Homo sapiens: one gene and its partners. The protein of the gene in region 2 purifies or fractionates together with the protein of the main gene of each other region. This does not show direct contact. Each region holds a gene or a part of one and is shown on either strand. Other genes may lie near its edges.

Evidence for each region.
Region 1: the proteins of RNASE13 (region 2) and L3HYPDH purify together in Homo sapiens (affinity purification with mass spectrometry; one large-scale study listed by BioGRID and IntAct). This does not show direct contact.
Region 3: the proteins of RNASE13 (region 2) and COL14A1 purify together in Homo sapiens (affinity purification with mass spectrometry; 3 studies listed by BioGRID and IntAct, with this or other methods). This does not show direct contact.
Region 4: the proteins of RNASE13 (region 2) and CD109 purify together in Homo sapiens (affinity purification with mass spectrometry, with the first as the bait; one large-scale study listed by BioGRID). This does not show direct contact.

Annotation. Positions count from the first base shown.
Region 1 is NC_000014.9:59,473,470-59,478,764, reverse strand, and holds part of L3HYPDH (trans-3-hydroxy-L-proline dehydratase), read left to right. Parts: intron 1-2,550; coding exon 2,551-2,673; intron 2,674-2,758; coding exon 2,759-2,896; coding exon of another isoform or gene 2,897-2,971; exon of another isoform or gene 2,972-3,165; coding exon of another isoform or gene 3,166-3,201; exon of another isoform or gene 3,202-4,238; coding exon of another isoform or gene 4,239-4,250; exon of another isoform or gene 4,251-5,295. UniProt on the Homo sapiens protein: Catalyzes the dehydration of trans-3-hydroxy-L-proline to Delta(1)-pyrroline-2-carboxylate (Pyr2C). May be required to degrade trans-3-hydroxy-L-proline from the diet and originating from the degradation of proteins such as collagen-IV that contain it.
Region 2 is NC_000014.9:21,031,087-21,036,765, reverse strand, and holds RNASE13 (probable inactive ribonuclease-like protein 13 precursor), read left to right. Parts: upstream 1-1,958; 5' UTR 1,959-2,110; intron 2,111-2,469; 5' UTR 2,470-2,477; coding exon 2,478-2,948; 3' UTR 2,949-3,948; downstream 3,949-5,679. Other genes in the region: TPPP2 (tubulin polymerization-promoting protein family member 2), read right to left, coding at 4,689-4,874, 5,601-5,679. UniProt on the Homo sapiens protein: Does not exhibit any ribonuclease activity.
Region 3 is NC_000008.11:120,368,746-120,374,040, reverse strand, and holds the end of COL14A1 (collagen alpha-1(XIV) chain isoform 1 precursor), read right to left. Parts: intron 4,712-5,295; coding exon 4,556-4,711; intron 3,706-4,555; coding exon of another isoform or gene 3,674-3,705; exon of another isoform or gene 3,305-3,673; coding exon of another isoform or gene 3,207-3,304; exon of another isoform or gene 2,890-3,206; coding exon 2,810-2,889; 3' UTR 468-2,809; downstream 1-467. UniProt on the Homo sapiens protein: Plays an adhesive role by integrating collagen bundles. It is probably associated with the surface of interstitial collagen fibrils via COL1.
Region 4 is NC_000006.12:73,761,347-73,766,641, forward strand, and holds part of CD109 (CD109 antigen isoform 1 preproprotein), read left to right. Parts: intron 1-1,037; coding exon 1,038-1,134; intron 1,135-1,394; coding exon 1,395-1,536; intron 1,537-2,229; coding exon 2,230-2,339; intron 2,340-4,583; coding exon 4,584-4,808; intron 4,809-5,295. UniProt on the Homo sapiens protein: Modulates negatively TGFB1 signaling in keratinocytes.

The sequences.
Region 1 (5,295 bases), about 38 Mb from region 2:
TATAACCTTGGGCAAGTTACGTAACCTCCATATGCCTCAGTTTTCCTGTCTGCAAAATGGAAATTAAAAAATACCTGCTTTGTAGGGTTGTGAGAATGAAATAAGTCAATACATGTAAAGGACTTAGAGTAGTGTCTGGCCAATAGTAAATGTTCAGTAAATGATAATATTATTTTTTTTGAGACAGGGTCTTGCTCTGTCACCCAGGCTGTAGTGCAGTGGTGTGATCATAGCTTACTGTAACTTCAAATTCCCAGGCTCAAAATGATGCTTCTGCCTCAGCCTCCAGAGTAACTGGGACCACAGGCATGCCCCATCACACCCAGCTAAATCTGTGTTTGTGTGAGTGTGTGTGTGTGTTTATATAGAGACAGGATGTCACTATGTTGCCCAGGATGGCCTCAAACTCCTGGCCTCAAGTGATTCTCCCAGCTCGGCCTCCCAAAGTGTTGGGATTACAGGTGTGAGCCACCACACCTAGCAGTTACTAAATTTAATAATACATACATACTAATATAGTTTATAGTTCCTTAAATGTGTAGAAATATATTTATAGAATTCTGCAAATTTTAAATGCATGTGTGTGGTCATTCTGTTAAACTTGAAAATAATAAATGTAAAATATAGTGTACAGAATAGATTTAAGCCTTTTTCTTATTTCATAGAGAACATTAATTCCTATTATTTTTTTCCTACATTGCTAAGAAGTTACTCAAATAACTACTTAAATAACTCTAGTTTTTACTTGGGAAAGCTAATTTGATAAAATCAGTTTAGATAATAATTCTAGGATATTCTTTCACTTCTAGCACGAGTGAAGCACATTTTACCTTGAAATTGGGACCTATAAATAAAACACATGTACAGTATTTGAATGTTTAGTACGTGAGAATTTAGTATGTGAGAATTTATTAGTAGTAAAAAGTAACTTGTGTAAGATAGTGTCTAATGTACGAATAATTATCATTTTCTGAAGCTTTATTTTAAAATAATTTATAACTTAAAATGAGAATATACACTGTATCAGTATTCTAAATTATTTTTCTGGTACTGCCAGTACCAATATGTGCAATTATATTATGATAGCAACTTTTGAAGCTCTGAATTTACATCAGTTTTCTGTTCCATTAAGCAGGACAGCTAATAGTCTGAGTTAACAATTTGGCACAAAATAATTTCTCCTAATTTTTCATGAATTCAAGAGAAAAAGTCATGGATATCTTAATAAAAGGTGTAATTTTGTACTTCTCATTTGAGTTTGAACTCAACAAGATGGCAAGGGGTGGACTTTGAGGGAGGAAGGATTCTGAGAAAAATGAGGACAAGTTCTGTTATTGATGTATCAGACAGTACAATTAATTACTCTGTGAACTGTTGACTATTCACACTGCTGAAGCAGATTTAGGAAAAGGCCATGGGGATGGAGAGTTAAAGTTAATATAAATTCATCTTAATTCATTCACTCTTTTAACAAACATTTACCACAAACATACTGTATATATGTTAGACATTCTGCTAGATCCTGGAGACTCGAAGAAAGAACAAACCCCACCTTTGAGGAGCTAGCTCCAGTTGGGGAAGCGAGCATACCTGTGAACAGTGTTATGTTGGAATGTGCTATAGTGGAGGTGGGGCGTATCACTTTAAGAGGATGGAGAACAAAGATTCAATCTGCAGGCCGCTTTAACTTGGTTTCAGATGGACTCTTTGGATGTTAAGAACCCAAAGCTGTTCCATTGCTTTAAATGACATGTAACTGGAAGTAGAAAGTACTAATTGTAAGCATATACAAGGGAAGTCAGATTATAGCAATCTCAGTCATACTGTAAATGTTTGCAGAAATCCAGGAAAAGTTAAAGAACTAGACTTCCAAGAACAAGTAGCTTTGCATATTTGGGCCTGAATCTACCATTGAGTGACTTAGCTACCCTGCCAGTGCCTGCTTCTTTGTGTGCATATCTGCTGCTTTTTGATGAATCAACTGACTTCATCGTCTACAATAAATCTTTTTTTCCTCCAATTGTTTCTCTTGCCTAATAGTTTCTGCATTCTTACAGAATGTTATATCCTCTCACAGCCTTTGTCTCTATCATTGGTGTTAACTTCAGCTCTAGATACTCAGAGCCTGATTTTCCCACATTATCCTCCTTAAGCTCCTGAGAATAAGACTATGATTGCCTTAGCTCATCCTGTTTGAGCAGCCATCGCCAGCCTGTGGATTGACCATCCTGGGGTCAGTGCTGCAAAGACTATGTGTATTTGGGGTGGGAGGGGTGTATAAAATAGGACTGCTTTTTTAGCAAAGGCTATATGCAGGACAGCTTCCTTAGAAGGGACTCAAAGTATGATAAGAATTATAAATTGCAGTAAAACTATGTTTCTTCATCTAGACAAAGACATAATTTCTAGCAATTAGTATACGTTGCCCAAAAAGGTATTTTAAAAATGATAAGGATTAAAAAGTTATGTCTAAGAATGACCCATCTGCATTATTTATAAATTTGAATCAAAATATTTATTTTGCATGTGATCTTTTTTTGTTACTTGCAGTTTAAAATTAATCATCCTGATAGTGAAGACCTTGCCTTTTTATATGGAACTATATTAACAGATGGAAAAGATGCTTATACCAAGGAACCAACCACCAACATTTGTGTTTTTGCAGATGAACAGGTATTAAAACTGTAATGTTTAGGGACAAAAGCCAGGTAATATGGAACACACTATGAACATTCTGTCTTCATTTATTCTGAAACAGGTTGACAGAAGTCCCACTGGCTCAGGAGTGACAGCCCGAATTGCCTTACAGTATCACAAAGGGCTTCTGGAACTGAACCAGATGAGAGCCTTCAAAAGCAGTGCAACTGGCTCAGTATTCACAGGGAAAGCTGTGAGGGTAAGTGGCACCCTTAGCTTCTTATTTATAAATGTGTCACTCATGAGACTGGAGAGGCCTGAGTTGGGTGTTTGATAAATTTCTTCACTCAGCTCTCAGAAGAGAATTTTAAAGCAGGCCTGTAAAAACTTCTTTTCAACTAGGACATTGGTTATCCAGTGTGGTCTTGGGGCCCCAGCGGGCCCCTAAGGTCCTTTCCATGGGTTCAGAGGGTCAAAACTGTGTTCATAATAATGACATTATTTGCTTTTCACTCTCATTCTCTCAAGAGTGTACAGTGGGGTTCTTCAGAGGCTACGATGTGATATGTGATAACCCAACCAATTGAATGCAGAAGCTAGATATGAGAACCTAGTTGTCTTCTGTTAAGCCAGACATGAAACAGGTTTGCAAAAATATCAAACAATGCCACTTTTCTCATAATTTTTTTTGTTTTGGCAAACAGTTATTTTCACAAAAATGTGTTATTCATATGTTAATGTATAATGGGTTATTTTTAAAATGAAGTAATGAACAGATATATCCAATTCCTAATACAGTAAATATTGATAGATATAACTTATATAAAGAAAAACTCTTTGGGGTCCTCAAATCTTAAGGTATAAAAGGGTCCTAAGACCAAAAGGTTTGAGAACCATTAGGATTTGGGGTTTTTTTTTGTTTTTTTGTTTTATTTTATAATAGTGTTTTATTTGATATAATAGGATGTGAAAGCCCTGAAAAGTTGTGGAACATCAAATTTTTGTAATGGAATAAAATTTTAAATGTGCTAACAGCTAAGTAATGAATCTTATCTCAGTAGTAAATGAAATCTACTACAGAATGATCTACATTCAGTAAATTATTCTACTCATAAAGAGTCCTTTAACATAGCAAACAATCTATCCTAATATAGCTGTTTTTAAGATTTGGTGTTTCTGAATATTAGAGTTTCCTTAAGGATCTCTACATCATATAGTGATCTGAAACATGTGAAACCATTTATGTTGTATGCAAAAATTTGGAACATACTGTCTTCAAAATCTGAAATGGAACATAAAAATAACAACATACATTTATTGGATACTTCACTGTGCATCAGTTTCCAAGCTAAGCACTTGATACATGCCATCTCATTTAATCCTCACAAGAATCCTACAAGGTCAGTACTGTGCTGTTATTATCGTTTTTCAATAGATGATAAAACGGAGAATTGGAGAAGTTAGGTAATTTACCAGAGGTTAGTTAGTGAGTAGCAGATCCAGGTCATGAAGGTGGGTCTCTGAACAGACCACATGCTGTTAAGCATTATATTATATTGCTGTCAGACAAAGCAAAAGGTCAATGAGGCTTTATATTATAGGAGCTGTTATGAGAAGAATCTGGGATTGCAATGTCCCCCCAAATAGAGAGGGAGCCGAGAGACCAAAGAATGACTCAGACAAGTCCAGGTTGGCAAGTAGATGCATTTATTAGAACTTCCATATAAGGCACTCCTGGGAAGCAGCTGAACAACTGTGGAGACCCATCCTGCCTCCTGACTCTAAGCTGCTTTTAAGCTAATTTTCTGGCTCTTTGCCTACTGTGTATGTGTGATAGGACTGTTTTCCTTGGTATGTTCCCAGATATTCTCTGGGATATTTGGGTTCTCAGGGATACCTGCTTCTTGGCTGGGCACCATGCCCTTGGCTTACCCCCCAGCCTTCAGGGTTCAAGCAGTGGACATACACCCTTACATAACCTGGTGAAGGACCTGTCACACTACAGCAGCTTTATAAAAAGATATAAAAAGATAAAGTATTATACCCTAACAATATTTGACATTTTACCTTTAGCTTCAGTTATTATTCTTTTAAAAATTAGAACATAAAAAGATATGCTGAAGTTAATGTTTCCAGTTACTTGTTTTATAGTTATTGATCATGCTTGCCAGAATGTCTTCACTTGCATCATGCTCTCTCCCTGTCTGTGTGGGCCCGTCCAGGCTCCCTGATGGTACCTTCTCAGTTTCTTCCCCTGCTGCAGCTTCCTTTCCCTGTCCTTCCATTTAGATGTTACCGTCACTTCATCCCCACCTTCCTTCTCATCTCTTCTACAGTTTGATGCTGCTGGGCAATTTCATCCACTTCCTAGGCTTCAGTTCTCAACCATCTACTGATGATGACTCCCAAATGTTTATCCCTGCCCTGACTACCTACCCTGTATGTCTTTCTGAATATAACGCTCTTAATCCCAACTGTTTATTATACTCATCTCTAAATGACTGTCCCAGAGGTGTCTCAAACTCACCTTGTTAAAAAGTTCTTCCTTTCTTCCTTTCTCAAATGTGCTCTTCCTTTCTCTCCCCATTGTGTTTAATGGCATCACTAGCATCATTTCCAAGCTAGAAACTATGGTTATAATTAACTTATTGCTAGTCC
Region 2 (5,679 bases):
CTTTCTATGAGCTAGCACCATGGAATAGATGGGGGCGAGGAACGGTGCAGCAGCAGGGTTCCAGGTAGAGGAGACAGCAGCAGATAGGGCATAGAGGAGGTGGGGGACAAGGTGGGAAGCAGGCAGGGATGCAGATGCAGTTGTACACATGGGCAGGTGCAAGATCATGGGAAGTCTTATGTCCTGTGAGATGTAGTTTGGACTATACCCTACGACAAGCTTGTCCAACCCATGGCCCGCGGGTCACATGTGGCCCAGGATGGCTTTGAATGCAGCCCAACACAAATTCGTAAACTTTCTTAAAACATTATGAATTTTTTTGCATGTTTTAAGCTCATCAGCTATCGTTAGTGATAGTGTATTTTATGTGCGGCCCAAGACAATTCTTCTTCCAATGTGGCCCAGGGAAGCCAAAAGACTGGGCACCCCTACCCTATGAGAAACAAGCTATTGCAGACTTTTAGACGAAAGAAGGGATCACACTTTTTCTCTTGAAGTTGTATAAGAGATATATTTGAGTTGAGTCTTACTGGAGTTGGAGTGTGTGTGCTGTCCAGGCGAGACGAGAGCATCCACTGAGGAAGAAATAAGAATGGAAGAGATGGGCTTGGGAAAAGTTTAAGATTGTCAGGGCTGTGTGACTGATGGACTCAGGCTCATACTGAGGACTCACCATGTGCCGGGCACTGGTCTAAAAACTCTTGATATACATCTTAATGGATCCTCATACTGCCGTGAGGTAAAAAATACTATCCTCATGAACAGATGAAACAAGGAAGCTTTCAGTGGTTTCGTAAACAGATAGATGGTGTGCAGTTTGTAAGCTGCAGAGGCAGGATTCAATTCCTGGTCTGTTTCACTCAAAAGCCTTGATCTTAACCACCATGCAGGACCGCCTCCCCGTAGCTGGGATTGGGGAGGTGGAGGGGTCTAGGATCACTTTCAGGTTTCTTGCATAGGTAACCAGGGAAACTGAGTTGACAAAACAGGAAGAGAAACAAGTTATGGGGAGGATGGATTCCATTTTGGACTGTGGTTTGTGCTGTCAGAAAGTGCCAGTTTAGGGGGCTCTACATGAGGAACACCAATCTTTCTCTCTGCGGCCTTACTCCCTCCTCCTGAGCTATACTGAGGGTGTTGGAGCACTCAGCTTTCTGTGTTCTGACTCCCCTTTTCTGCTGCCCAGCAAAGGTAAAAAGGCTCTCCTAAGAGGAGGCCCCAAATCTGGAAGACACCTTGCAGACTAACAAGGCTGAGTGACCTGTGGAAGTCAAGGGCAAGAGCTAGCAGTTTCCAGGGAGCTGGCTCTTTGATTCTGATGAAAGGGAAGATGTTGATGAAAAAGATAGGAGCGTGGCCCTTTCCCCAGCATGGCAAACCACTCAGAGATCAACCAACAGTACGAAACGGATCATGCCAGGCTCTGGCATCCACAGCTTTTCATGTTCAGGTTATGCTTTCAAATCCAAACTGCCAAGTTTGAGGCTTCAGAGTCAGCATGCAGAGATTTCCAGTAGTGCTCAAACTCTGACAGGGCCTGAGGTCACAGGTGAAGGCTGTGGGTGTGACAGGAGTAAGGCTGATAGGGACCGTGGGGAGTCCACATGGAGGTCTTTGATTCTCAGCCCAGCACTTTGGTGGGAGGCCCCTGAGTACATGCCCTCCTGGGCTCCCGTGAGTGGGATGACAAAGTGGCGAATGCTCTGTTCTCTGAGGGTCAGGAATAAGAAGCACTTTGTTCCTCAGAAACATAACAGTGCTTTCCTACTCACCTTGCCACGAGAGCACAGGCTATGGAACAGAGAAAACATCAAAGAAAGCCCAGGCACTTAGGAACTTTTGGCAAGGAGATTGGAAGTAAGTGTTCCAATGACACTGTAGAGGAGGAGACCAGATAGTAATGCCTCTTTCCTCCCACCCATCCAACCCTCTTAGCACAGGGGCTCATCAAACTCGGGGACATTCCCTCCTCCCAGACTGATTTTTACCTAGAAACCTTTCTAGCCTCTCCTCATCTCTTGACTGTCTTGGCCTTGGCAAGAAGAATACACGTCCCTACCCAGCTATCTTCAGCTCCTGTCCTTCCTCCCAGCTGCCAGAGAATTGTCAGGTCAGCCTGCTCCTTCTTTCTTCTCTGCATTTTTTACTAGCAGGAGTGCCAGGGGCCCAAGGACTCTTGGGAAGAGTCTCTCACCCAAGGACCAGTTAGAGCTCTTATTCTGCAAATGTAGCTCACGGACTCTGCAGAGGCTGAGATTCTGTGGTGGACCAGGGGAGCAGGGCTGGCTGAAGGTGGCTGGTTGTCTGGGTGGCCTTGGGCAAGCATCTCCTCTTTCTGGGTCATGAGAACTTGGTTATGGGTGAGATGATCTCTAAAGTACTGTTGGGTTGGGAATGCTGGAGGCTCTGGGATGTGGCAGACAGCCACTTCAGGCCCACTGCTGCCCCCAACCACCTTAACTCTACCAGCAGGAGGAATGGCACCAGCTGTGACCCGGCTCCTTTTCCTCCAGCTTGTTCTGGGGCCAACTCTGGTCATGGACATCAAGATGCAGATTGGCAGCAGGAACTTCTATACCTTAAGCATTGACTATCCCAGGGTTAACTACCCAAAGGGTTTCCGGGGCTATTGTAATGGTCTGATGTCCTATATGCGAGGCAAGATGCAAAATTCAGATTGCCCAAAGATCCATTATGTGATACATGCCCCTTGGAAGGCCATCCAGAAGTTCTGCAAGTATAGTGACAGCTTCTGTGAGAATTACAATGAATACTGCACACTCACCCAGGATTCCCTCCCCATCACGGTCTGCTCCCTGAGCCACCAACAGCCACCCACTAGCTGCTACTACAATAGCACCCTAACCAACCAGAAGCTCTACCTACTCTGCTCCCGCAAGTATGAAGCTGATCCAATAGGTATCGCTGGTCTCTATTCGGGAATTTAATTCCTGAGCCACTCCCCAACCTCTACCACCACAGGCCAGCTGTCTCCATTTCCAACACTCTGATCCCTGTAACAAGACTTCCTTCCTGACTTACGAGGCAGGCAGGGTCCCCTCCCAAGAGACCAGGTGGGTGCGAAAATGTCCAGGGCTTTGATCACCATGCAAAGTGGTGCTATCTTCTAGGTTCTTTCCAGCTTGTTTACCCCCTCTTCGCCCCCACCTCCTCATCATCCTTCCTCTCCCAGAGACAGTAAAACCCACCCAAGAAGTTGACTGTGTCCAGTTGGCAGTGACTGTCCACCCACTGGGCCAGATCCTAAGTCCTGGATGGAGGCCCAGGGCCTCAGCTCACACCATGGCAACAGGCACCAGCTCCGAGTCTCACCTCCCCATCCCCACCAGCCTTCTCATGTCAGCCTCCCCCAGTTCCCTTATAATTCCCTCCACTCACCCACCTACTCAGGGGATATGGCTAGCTATAGGAACCTCCCTGAGGCCCTCAGACTCATGTTAGCCTCACTTCCCCACAACCCCCAGTTTCCAGCCTGCTTCTCTCTGTGAAATCATGGTTTCTCCCTTCATATAACTGTCCTCTCCTGCTTCCTCTTACCATGGAGCCTAGGACTGTCTCCCCCACACTCCCAACAACCGTAGTCACCCTGCCTTCCTTTTTCCAACCTCTTTTTCTTCCAGTCTTCTTACCTTGGCTCACTGGCATTTCAAGGTATCTTCTCTCACCCATTCCCCAGAGGTTCCTGCTTCCCTTCTCTTCCAGAAGCTCCTCCCAAATCCCCCAGACTCCAGAGTCTGCCCCTGACCAGGCAGCGAATGAGGCAGGCCCGGCTCTAATCGAACATAAATTTCTAAAACCACATCTGAGTATGTAAGATGTAACCATTGGGGGAAACTGGGTGAAGGGCACACGAGCCCCCTCTGTACCATTTTTTGTAACTTCCTGTCAACCCATAATCAATTCAAAATAAAAAGTTAATAACACACATCTGACTCTGTTGTGATTTAATTGCTTTTTCTTCAGTGCACCAGAACTCCTGCTCTTGGAATCCTGGCAGCCTGCCTCATCTGGCCATCTTCCTGAGCTACCCTTAGCAGTCAGTAAGCTCTTCTGTCCCATGTGCCCCATGATGGAGGTGATGTGGGGTAAAACTTAGTTCTGGGCTGGGTGTTGAAAATAGACTCTCCCCTTACCCCAGCTCTGGAACAAATTTGTAATAGAAGTCAGGCAACCTTAGCTGGCTTCTACTCCTCCACCCAAAAAACCTGAATTGCAACAGATGAGGAAGGTGGAGGGACAGGGAAGGATCTAATATGTGATATAGTCATAGTCCATCACGTGAGGAATTGCTACACCCTTTTGAGGGGTGGGGGTGGAGAGGTGGATATCAGTAATGTGTGAACACAAGTAGTAGATACTTTTACCTCCACATCTGGTTCATCTCTTTACTCCAAATATATTCTTCCATCCTGTTCTTGGAAGCAGCTGTTGAGGAGGAATGCTAACTGATGGCTGGTAGGCATAAGGCTAAGCAGAGCGAAGGGTGTGTGGTGGAGAACCCACCCTCCTGTGCTGCCTCTTCTCCCTCTCTCTACACTAGTAGGCTCATCTGTCCCTCACAGACAGAGATTTTGGCTGCTGCACACACAGATGTTTATTGTTTTCCAAGCTCCCTGGTGTTAAACATGCAGGGTCAGGGGGCTAGCAGGCTGAGATGAAGCTCCTCTCTACTTGGTCTTCTTATCGTAGGTGCCAGAACCCTTGTAACCACTCACATAGCCTGTGTTGTCAGTCATCTCTTCCCGTCCCGCAATGCCCTTGCCCTTGCCACTCTCATCAAAGCGCTCCTTGTGGGTGCCGGTGTACTTGCTGGTGTCTGTCAAACGGTCCACTGCACCCACTGTTGTTGCTTTCTGCAAGCCAGGGATGGATTTGAGCTCTCTTCCTTTCCTTACGCTGTCATATCCCTTCCCCAAAGATGGCCCGAGATACTTAGAACAAGTGCTTGGAGCTCTTGCTCTGCCACTGGCATGGGGTGCTGCTTTCTTAGGGCCCAGATACAGCTGTGGGCAGGTACTCTGGTAAGAGCCGTTCACTCATGGGGGAGGAGGAGTGTGGTGTGGGAATGAGTGTGGCGTGTGCAGAGGGAGGGTAGGTTTTTTGTTTCCAGAGGAGTTATTCTGACTAGGCTGCTGCCTGAGGACTTCACTCCCACTCCCCGACTCAATATCCACTGTAGAAAGAGCTTTTAGTTCAGACAGGACAATTAAAAAAGGGAGTAGGTGAGAGGCAGGAGGCCTGAGATTAAACCCTAAATAAGAATTGGAAGAGGAGTGGGCATCAGGTACCAAATTCTCTACACTAATGTCCTCCAAAAGCTACCAAGCCCTAATTGCCTGGCTCAGATACTAGACACTTGGAAATTAGTCTAAATCTACTATTAAAATAGCCATGGACCTTGGGCAAGTCACTTCCCTTCTCTGGGCCACATTTTCCTGACTTCTGGAATGTCTAGATGATCTCTAAAGTCTGTTTCGGCCCTGTCTCTACAGTCACACAGTTGGCAGGGTTAGGGAGGGTAGACTGGAACAATGGGGATTTAGGGAAGTAGGGTCAAGGGGATGAAGGCTGTCACTCACAGTAGCGCCAGTGGTGGCTGGGTCTTTGCCCTCCATGAGTCCATAAATGTTCTCCAGGACTTCATCTGGACTCTTCCCT
Region 3 (5,295 bases), on a different chromosome or scaffold from region 2:
GGCCCCTCCCACCCAAATGGAAGCAGATGTTCCTTTATTCCTCCTTTCTTATTCCTGTCTTAGGACCTTATCTGTGTCTTTCATATTCATCATGATTGATAATTAATTTTTCTATGGCCATACCACCCTGAACGCATCTGATGTTGTCTGATAATTAATTTTGCTTATGTGTTCACGTTTCCTGTCTTTTTCCAGCAACAGAAAGGATGCCCCAAGAGGACAGAGCCCACATCTCTTTTGGTGATGGTTTTATCCCCAGAACGAAAACACTCCCTGGTTCACAGTAATATTTGATATGGAAAGATGGGGTGGGGCAGAAGAGGTAAAAAAATTAAAAAAAAAAGAGGAAGAGTTGTTCTAAAATTAAATTGGGGTCTTTTGGAATATAAAATACTACCCTAAAATGACTATTCCCAAAAGAAATGGAGAGTTTGTAACAAATGTGATGAGAATTCTGAAGAGTAATGTATTTTTCATGAAATGATTTATTACTTTTAGAAAACAGTATAAACTTACAAACTATAAATTAAGATATAAGTATATTTCTGCCAAAGTAAGTCAAGAAAAATGCACTTCAGAATCAGCTTTTATTACAGGCAATGTATTGTAAACTCGAACATCCAGAATCTGAGTTACACTTATTATTTTTAACATTTTACTCAATAAAAATCTGATATACTGGGTCCAAGTGATGACACATTCCAAATTAATGTAACTTTCTTGCAGCTTAAATAAACAAATTTAGATCACCAAGTGAAATCAAAGCCAAGTGTATTTGCACAACTCAAGAATGATGTGAATGGATTAGAATCTCTCATAGTGTATACTTCGCCATTTATACACAAACTTTGAGAGTCTTCTGAGTGACATGGTATTTAACTTTGTTTCCAAGGGCCAAATACTAAAATGTATAGAATATCCTACTCTATACTCACTATTAAATGTCATGGACTAGGAAATCTGAGACACAGAATAAGAAGCAACTGATTACACACCCTAGTCATTTAAGTTGGAAGAGTTCTCTTAGGTGACTCTGGGTCAGGCCATCTTGATGAGCCTTAGACAAGTTTTCCTTCCCATAAATCCTGCTTTCTCAGGCAGAATCATATACCATAACTGAAAGGAAATGGCTGCTGATTATCTGCTCATTATCTTCTTTCATTCCCTGCAAAGACACCAAAAAAACTGATTTGTTTAGAACCGCCCCCCGCCCCTGCCCCACCCCACCAAAGGCACACAAGTAGATTGTTTGAATCCTTCAGATGAAGTCTGAAGATGAATCATCTGAAGAATCCTTCAGATGAAGATGAAAGGAGATCTTTCATCTCCAAAGATCAGGAGATTATGAGAAGGACAGAAAGAGAACCTGGTGATCAGACAGACACCATCCTTCGTGTTAGCCTTTTCCTGATCCAGAAAGAATCCAGCTTCTAGTTGTAAATGATCCCATCCCTACTTTCTAAAGTTAGCTGTTACTAGGGAGATGTTACAGAGAAGGAGCACGTATTAAATTTATGGTTCTCTTTTGTTTCTATTTCAACTAGCACATAATAGAATTCAAATCTTTCTCAAATACCTAGATTTTTCCTTTGTGAGCAAAAGACAAAGTATGGTTTAAGGGTTAGAGTCTATTAGATTCAACCTCATTTCTGCTCTGCCTTCTAGGGGTTTTTAGGCTTTCCTCAATATCAGAAGATAGGTGGGCTCCTCAGTCAACTATTGATAAACATTTATTTAGCAGAGGTCATGCATTTGCAGGGTCTTTGCTGCCTGCTAGATTATAAATGAACAATAAAATGTCGCTAATCTCTTAGTCCCAAGTTAACTGCTTCTTCTGTTTTCTACTGCACTCAGAATGAATGAATGAGTGAGTGAGTAAACGAATGAATGAAAGTTTGAATGCTTACCTAAAGGAAGACAACTGTTGTCTTTCTGGTGGACACTCAGTTAAGACTACAAAAGCTTAAGGTGATACTTAGAAATGCAGGAAAAAGAATCCACATACATTGTTTTAAAGTTTTATTTGCTTACAAAAGAAAATGGAAATAGGTTTGCGAAAACTTATCTGCATGTACAAAGTAATCCCCGTAGATAAGGAGAGGCAACCCCTGGAACACACTGCTGGATAAATCGTTCATTAAAATTATATCTCTTTGCATCAGAGCTGGTGGAAAATCATTATTTCACATGAGTTAAAACCACTGAAAAACTAAATCTGTTTCTTAAACTACCAAATTCAGAAAGCTTAAATCCAAATGCTGATTTTTGGATACACATGAAACCAGTTACCAAGTGATCTCAGAGTTGGACAGATCAATTAAACAAGAGGTAGTTTCTCCAATATTGTCCCTTTTTTTCTTATCAGCAAGGTTATTCCTACAGCAAGTAGGAGTAAGTGACATATTCTTTGAACCTCTTTGAATTCTTTTCCTGCTAGGGACATATTTCCCTCAAACACAATCATATCTGTTTGTTCATTTTAGGACTTGAGAGAGAAGATTCCAGAGTTCAATTTATTTTTCCCAATTCCTCTTTGAGCTCTCTTCTCTGGAAAAACAAATTATCTGACATGCCATTAAGACACCAAAGGGAAATCATTGCTACCATGTCATAGATTAAGGGAACTTTTTAAAAATATATATTTTTTGTTAATAATAATAATAATATTAACATTATCCAAGGAGGAGATTTAGGCTGCTGAAATGAGCCCTGCCCCCCAAAAGTAGCATACAAACCACATAACAACATTTTCTCAAACAAGATTCCTTAAGAGTTCTTGCAGTTGGTCTTCAAATTTCTCCTGAGGCTATCAGACTCCAGGGCCCCACAGTTCCATGGCTTCCAGCTCATCTTGGACAGGGGTGAACTCTGGCTGATCTGGATGGGGAGCTAAAGAGGAAAAGTGGGGGTGGGGACTTGCTGCACCCAGGAATCATAAATTGATATTCTCCCCTCACCTGGGTCCTTAGAGACACAGAGATATCCTGCTGGGTAAAAAGCAGTGGATGTCTTAATCCACCACGCCCCTTGTACCTTCCCCATAAGGTTTCAGACAGTTAGTAAATAGACGAAGGGAAAGATACATTACAGAAATTGTTAGAAAACTAGAATCATAACCAACCATTTAAATATTATGTTTTATTTACAGAAGAAACCCTGAAAACTCAGCAAAATTATAAAAGAAATAGAAATTTTTTTAAAAAATCTCATGTTAGAAGTCCATCACCAGGGAAGAGCAGGGAGGGGAGGTGATCAGGGGAGGAAGGGAGAGTAGGGTGGTCAAGGAGAAAGATGCCCATCCATCCTGTGTGGGGAGAGGAAGGAGGAAGAGGCACAGTTAAGTAACTTTATTATGAAGCTGTCACACAGGGGAGTCTGGGATAAATTCTTGGCACACGATCATATACCTCTATCCAGGCTGACATGGAGCAGTCAGTGTCTATTAAAATAGACATATATGATTTGGTTAAGTTCCGATGTTATCACTCCATCATGTTTGGAGCAGAGTGGGCAAGAGGTTTGAAAGTGGGAAGGCAGGGATGCAGAAGAAGCAGGGAAGCAGAGTGTCCATTGTTAGGGGCAGGGGCTTGGTGGTGGTGGTGGTTGACAGGACAGTTCTGTATCCACAGCTAAATGTCTGGGGCCAATGGAACCAGAGTGGAGGATTTCCACTTCAGTGCTGGTAATCATTGTAGGGGATCAGATCTTAATAAGGATAGGAGTATTTGAGAGAACAGGGAGGGAAAAGATGAACAGAGAAAAACACATCAGCAAAACTTTGTTGACCAATTCCTGTGATAACTAAGGTTAAATTTCTACTGAAGCAGAAAATTTTAAACCCATTAACTAGTAAGTTCATGGCCCCACAGCAGTCCCTCAGCCTCTCCCTTGATGCTTCCAAGAGTGACTATGTCAGAAAAGGGGCCATTGCACAGCACGCCAGCATGCACACTGCAGATGTTTTAGGAAGCATATTCTTTTAGTCCAGTAGCTAGTGATAAGACAAGGACAGCATGATTTTTGTTTCCTCTCACAACTATTCTTGGTCACCTAAAATGTGGTGCTTAAATGCACCTAAATGCAAGTGGTATGCATGATTTCATTGAAAATAATCTAAGGAGCCCTCTTAATTACGGGAGAAGTTCTAAGTTTGACATTTCCCCAAACCAAGAGTAAAATTTTATGGGACGTCTTGGCCACATCACAGCTGTCACATAAGAATGGAGACTCCAAAAGAATGTTCAACCATGTCCTCCAAATGTGCTAAATACAAAGTCAGAGGCCAAGTCTATGTAGGTCATCACTGGGAAGCAAGGAAGACTTAGATGTGCTGTTATTTTGAATTTGCTCTTAAGGTTTTTAAGGGAGTAGCCTCTATAGCAATTTGCACTTTATAGAAAATGTCTCGGGATAATTTAAGGAAGTGAGGCATTCAAGCTCTGCTTCCCATTCATAACCAATTTAACTTTTTTCATAGCACTATCTTCCCATTTTGGTACTAAGCATACTAAAACATTGATCAAAGCCCACAAGCGGGGCTTTTTGTGACACTTACCTCTCACACCATAGGCAGAACATGATGAGGGGTCACAATATCCAGGCTGGCCAGAAGGACCTTGGGGTCCAGGAACCCCCAGATGACCTGGTGGGCCTCTTGGTCCAGGAGAGCCAGGGGGCCCAGGGCTGCCAGGCCGACTCTCCCCTGAAGGTCCTAAGAAGTACCCACAGATGAAAACCGTTGGTCTTTTGCCACAACAGGGTGAGTTTTGAGACAACCAAGAAGTAAACTAACTCTTAGAAGAAGCAACTTTTAGGACAATTAGGACAACCTCTTTCTACTCATTGAGTTCTTTTTTGTAGACTGGATTCCCTAGGCAGAGGGTCATAGTGTAATCACTTATCCTCCTGGAGGTCAATGCTCTCAATCAGCTCAGGAAACTGGCAAGCAAAATGCATCTTTTCTATTTCCTCTTGGATGTTAAAGGGAAAGGAACCTTCCATTATCAACCTTATTTTCTTTTTGGAGCTTTTGTTTCCCAATGCAGTTCCTTATGAATCCAATCTATGGGCGTGCACACACACAGACACAAACATGAACACACTCAGAGCTCAACCTCATCATCTAGTTAGAATAGCCATGCAATTCAGTACCAGTTTATGGCCCCAGATAATTAAAGCTCAACCTCATCAACAGTTAGAATAGCCATGTAATTCAGTACTGGTTTATGGCCCTAGATAATTAAAGTAAATTTGTATGAGTGTGAAATTGTCCTGGAGGGGACCAATGACAAGTTT
Region 4 (5,295 bases), on a different chromosome or scaffold from region 2:
TTTAAAAAATCTTTGGACAGGAAACTGTCACTTCCAATTATGATCAGGTATTTTCTGGAGTCTTTCAGATGGTCAGAGGTTGGGCAGAGTGTGTGTTAAGAACTGTTTTAAGCTACTATAGTTAAAAGTCTTCCCATTTTGGAAACTTAATTTCAAGGATCACCATTTATTTTTTATTTATTTATTTATTTTTTGAGTTGGAGTCTCACTCTGTTGCCCAGGCTGGAGTGCAGTGGCACGATCTTGGCTCACTGCAGCCTCCACCTCCTGGGTTCAAACAGTTCTCTGCCTCAGCCTCCAAGTAGCTGGGATTACAGGCACCCACCACCACGCCTGGCTAATTTTTTTGCATTTTTAGTAGAGATGGGGTTTCACCATCTTGGCCAGGCTGGTCTTGAACTCCTGACCTCGTGATCCACCAGCCTCGGCCTCCCAAAGTGCTGGGATTACAGGCATGAGCCACCGTGCCCATCCAGGATCACCGTTTATTAAAGACATTTTTGTTGGGTTTAGTTTAAAAAATTATAGTAGGAGTATGTTTTTAATGTAACTTTTTTCTTTTTAAAATTTTCTCTTTTTAGTGTTTTGCCATCCCATAATGTATTTTTTTTTAATTTATTTATTTTGAGACAGAGTCTTGCTGTCTTGCTGTGTTGTCCAGGCTGGAGTGCAGTGATGCGATCTCGGCTCACTGCAACCTCCACTTCCTGGGTTCAAGCAGTTCTCCTGCCTCAGCCTCCAAAGTAGCTGGGAGTACAGGTGCCTGCCACCATGCCCAGCTGATTTTTGTATTTTTAGTAGAGACAGGGTTTCACTATGTTGGCCAGGCTGGTCTTGCACTCCTGACCTCGTGATCCACCCGCCTCGGCCTCCCAAAGTGCTGGGATTACAGGCGTGAGCCACCGCTCCCAGCCCAATGTAATTTTTTAAAATGTTAGATTGCTAATTGCTAATGTATGCTATTGAAAGTAGTATTTTTATTGTGTTCTGACAATATCAAGTTGATACATAAAAAGACTATGTTTATAATTATTCAGGTATACATATGGGAAGCCAGTGAAAGGAGACGTAACGCTTACATTTTTACCTTTATCCTTTTGGGGAAAGAAGAAAAATATTACAAAAACATTTAAGGTAACTTTTGCAGACACTTTATAACTTGTGATGGGTAAAATATGTGTATTTTTCTAGAAATAAGATTTAGTACTGAATTAACAAAAAGTTAAGTGTAAGAAAATCAAGAGCTTTCCAGCATTGAACAAATGAGAATTTATGCAATTATAGCGATTAAAATGGTACCAGAGCTATCATATTGTTGTGACTTAGTTTGAGTTTTATTTCTAAAATTTGAATTGCTAAAATGGTAAATAATACTGAACTTTTAAACAAAACAGATAAATGGATCTGCAAACTTCTCTTTTAATGATGAAGAGATGAAAAATGTAATGGATTCTTCAAATGGACTTTCTGAATACCTGGATCTATCTTCCCCTGGACCAGTAGAAATTTTAACCACAGTGACAGAATCAGTTACAGGTTTGTAGACTTTAAAGTGGAGGTAAAACTATTCATGTGACACTGCTTTATCATCTTTCTTATTATAACTGGCACTTTCATTTGGGAGCATCATTGACTTTCTAAAGATGCTATTTAATGTTGAAATTGTTATGACTGTTAGTCTAAGTTGCAGGATGATTTTATAAGGGGGACCTTATTTTCTATGAAAGTCACTACTTCAACCACATGTGATAGCTCTTCTTAATTTTTTTTTCCATTTCTACTCTTTCCCCCTGAAAACTACATGGAAAGGCTTACATTTTCAGCTGGTAACCTTCTTCTTTTTAAAATCACTGAAATCTCAGCTGTTCCTAGACAGTTTTCACTTTTAATAAGAAAATAAAGTTGAGTTTCTTGGACCTTTCTGTTACTATTTCAACAACTTTAGCCAATCCCTGAAAGAGCAAAAGACTATTCTTTCATTGGCCTTAATTTGCTGCTGTTGTACATGTCACTGCGGTAGAATGGCAGCAATGGTGCTTAGAGGGGATCCATAGAGAACATAATAGAACTGTGTGGTGCTTGTAGTGTCAAAGTCAATATGGGAATGAGGCTTATGTGCCCTGATATTTTTAACCCTTTTTGCAATAGGTTAGATGGAGAGATTTGGTGGATAGAAGCTTTGGGTGAAACATTACTTTTGCTTTCTAAATTGTGCAATTTCCAAAAAAGGTATTTCAAGAAATGTAAGCACTAATGTGTTCTTCAAGCAACATGATTACATCATTGAGTTTTTTGATTATACTACTGTCTTGAAGCCATCTCTCAACTTCACAGCCACTGTAAGTTGGTATATTTATTTCCAGTCCATAGCAGTAAGTTCAGCTTAATGAAATAGAATGGGAAATAATATTTTCAATGCTTTTCTAAAAATTTAAGCCAAAAAGTATATAACTTTGTCTCTTTAGACATGTGGGGCATGTAGATTTGTTTCCAAATGACCTTTGTCTATTTTTTCTAAAAAAGTAGTTTTCAACAACAGTAAAAATATTTTTTGAAAATGTATTTTTTTTTACAAGCAATTTAAGTTAGATGTGGATTGCTACACTGAAGCTTTTATTAATTAATTGAAATAATTACATGGTAGTCAAAAATTTCAATTTCAATTTGGTTTTTATAATGATTAATTGTAGTTCTAACAAAGATGTTACATTAAAAAATTATCAACAAATCTCATTTTTTGGAGATAATGTTGAATTAACACATTAATTGTGTGAATGTTGACAATGAGCAAGGCATGGTGTTGGGCAGGGCTATAGAGCCAAGAAGGGCTCAGTCCCTACCCTCAGGTTCACAGTTTTTGTGATGGTGACAGGAAAATATATACTTAACTATAACTCATGGCAGATTAAGATTAGTGTTACAAATTAATTTCTGTAGGGATTTAAAGCAGGGGTTGCCAAACTTTTTCTGCAAAGGGCTAGAGAGTAAATATTTTCAGCTTTGTGGCCATGTGGTCTTTGTCACAGCTACTCAGCCCTGCCATTGTAGTGTGAAAGCAGCCATAGCCAATTTATAAATAAGTGAGAGTGGAATGTGTTCCAGTAAAACTTTGTTTACAAACATACTGGATTGGCCTATCAGCTTGCAGTAGTTGGCTGATCTCTGATTTAAAGAAAGGAGGAGTCAGGCCTGGCGTGGTGGCTCATGCCTGTAATCCCAGCACTTTGGGAGGCCGAGGCAGGCGGATCACCTGAGGTTAGGAGTTCGAGACCAGCCTGACCAACATGGAGAAACCCCATCTCCACTAAAAACACAAAAAATTAGGCGGGCGTGGTGGCACATGCCTGTAATTCCAACTACTCGGGAGGCTGAGGCAGAAGAATCGCTTGAACCCGGGAGGCGGAGGTTGTGGTGAGTGGAGATTGCGCCATTGCACTCCAGCCTGGGCAACAAAAGTGGAACTCCATTTCAAAAAAAAAAAAAAAAACAACTAAAACGACAAAGAAAGAATGGAGGGGTCACTTGTTGAATGGGTCGGTAGACGTTTCAGGTAGTTTCTGATTTCAATGATCTTAATTTAGGCAGTTTGAAAAGGTCAGTTTAAAAAATTGAGGCTGCAAATGGTAATTTCTGAATGAGTAGAGTGAAACCATGGGCGTTCAGAGGGGGAGAGTTGGCTGTGGGATAGGCATGGGGGTTACTATGGGATGCTTTATGGAAGAGGATGGTCTAAACTGTTTTTTAAAAGATTAGTTGTGTTTTAAATGCTTGGGCATGGGAGTGGGAGGTGGGGAGCAAGATAAGAAGTGAGACAAGAAGGAGAGGTCTGGCTGGCAATTTCGGGGTGCACTCAGGTAGTGTTTGAGGGAGACTGCTCAGGCTGTGTGCAGGAGGATGGCTGTAGCCCAGGAGTGAGGGGATGGGCAGCCTTGTGGTGGTAGCTGTGGGAGTGGAGAGGATGGAAGAGAGAAGCATAGGACTTTGGTGTTCATTGGATTTGGGGGGTGGGGAGAGGGAGGGAAAATTCAGAAATGTAAAGTCTTGCAAAATCCTGATGTTAGCGAAAATAGGAAAATGACATGGTTGCTCATTTTAGATATGTGAATTCAAGGTGTCCAGGATATCCAAGTAGAAATTTCCTGCAGGTAACTGGAGGTGTTGGGCATGAACTCCAGAGAAGGGCAAGGATGGGAATTTTGGCTTTAGGGTACAATCACAGAGATGACAAGCTAAGCAATAGGATTGCTGAGACCTTGGAGGAAGGGAGAAGAACAGATGTCCAAAATTCCCACATTTAGGGAGAGGAAAGAGGAACTGAAAAGGACACTGAGAGGATGCAGAAAGAGAGGTAGGAAGTGAAGGGGGTTATTTTGGAGCCGCGGAAGTTAAGGGAATCCATAATATTAACAAGGGAGTAATCAGTGATGTTGGATGCCTCCTAGAGAGAGGCCACTGAATCTGGATATTATAGTGCTACCAATAATTTTTGAGAGTTCAATTTCATGAGAATACTACAGACGGAAACTGTATTTAATCGTACTTAAATCCTTTGTGTTTTTAAGATGTTTTGTTTTGACCATTAGGTGAAGGTAACTCGTGCTGATGGCAACCAACTGACTCTTGAAGAAAGAAGAAATAATGTAGTCATAACAGTGACACAGAGAAACTATACTGAGTACTGGAGCGGATCTAACAGTGGAAATCAGAAAATGGAAGCTGTTCAGAAAATAAATTATACTGTCCCCCAAAGTGGAACTTTTAAGATTGAATTCCCAATCCTGGAGGATTCCAGTGAGCTACAGTTGAAGGTGCCGTCTGTTTCCCATCATTGTGTCACTGCAACAACACCATTACAGTTGTAATCTTGTGGTAGGCACTCAACCTGTCAGAACTGAAAGTACATAGGAAGTGGACACATGTTTCTGTTTCACAAAATGGAGGAGAGTGGTAAAAGTAATTTAATGACAGTGGCTGAAGGTTAGACTAAATTTTTCCTTGTAAGTTCATTTTGAAGAGCACAGTAAAATATAGCAATGTGAAGATATGATGGAGAATTTCCTCAAATCCCCAGTCTAGTGTTTGAGGTCAGTCATTTGAAATTTTATTTTGGCAGGAATTGAAATGAAAGATAAATATATATACATATATATATATACACACATATATATGTATATGTATATGTGTGTGTGTATATATATATATATATATTCCTTTCCTGTGTTTTAAAGCTATCAGTTTCTTTACAGTATAAGCTATAAAATGATGAAAATCCAATGTCTGGTGAATGTATTTTTC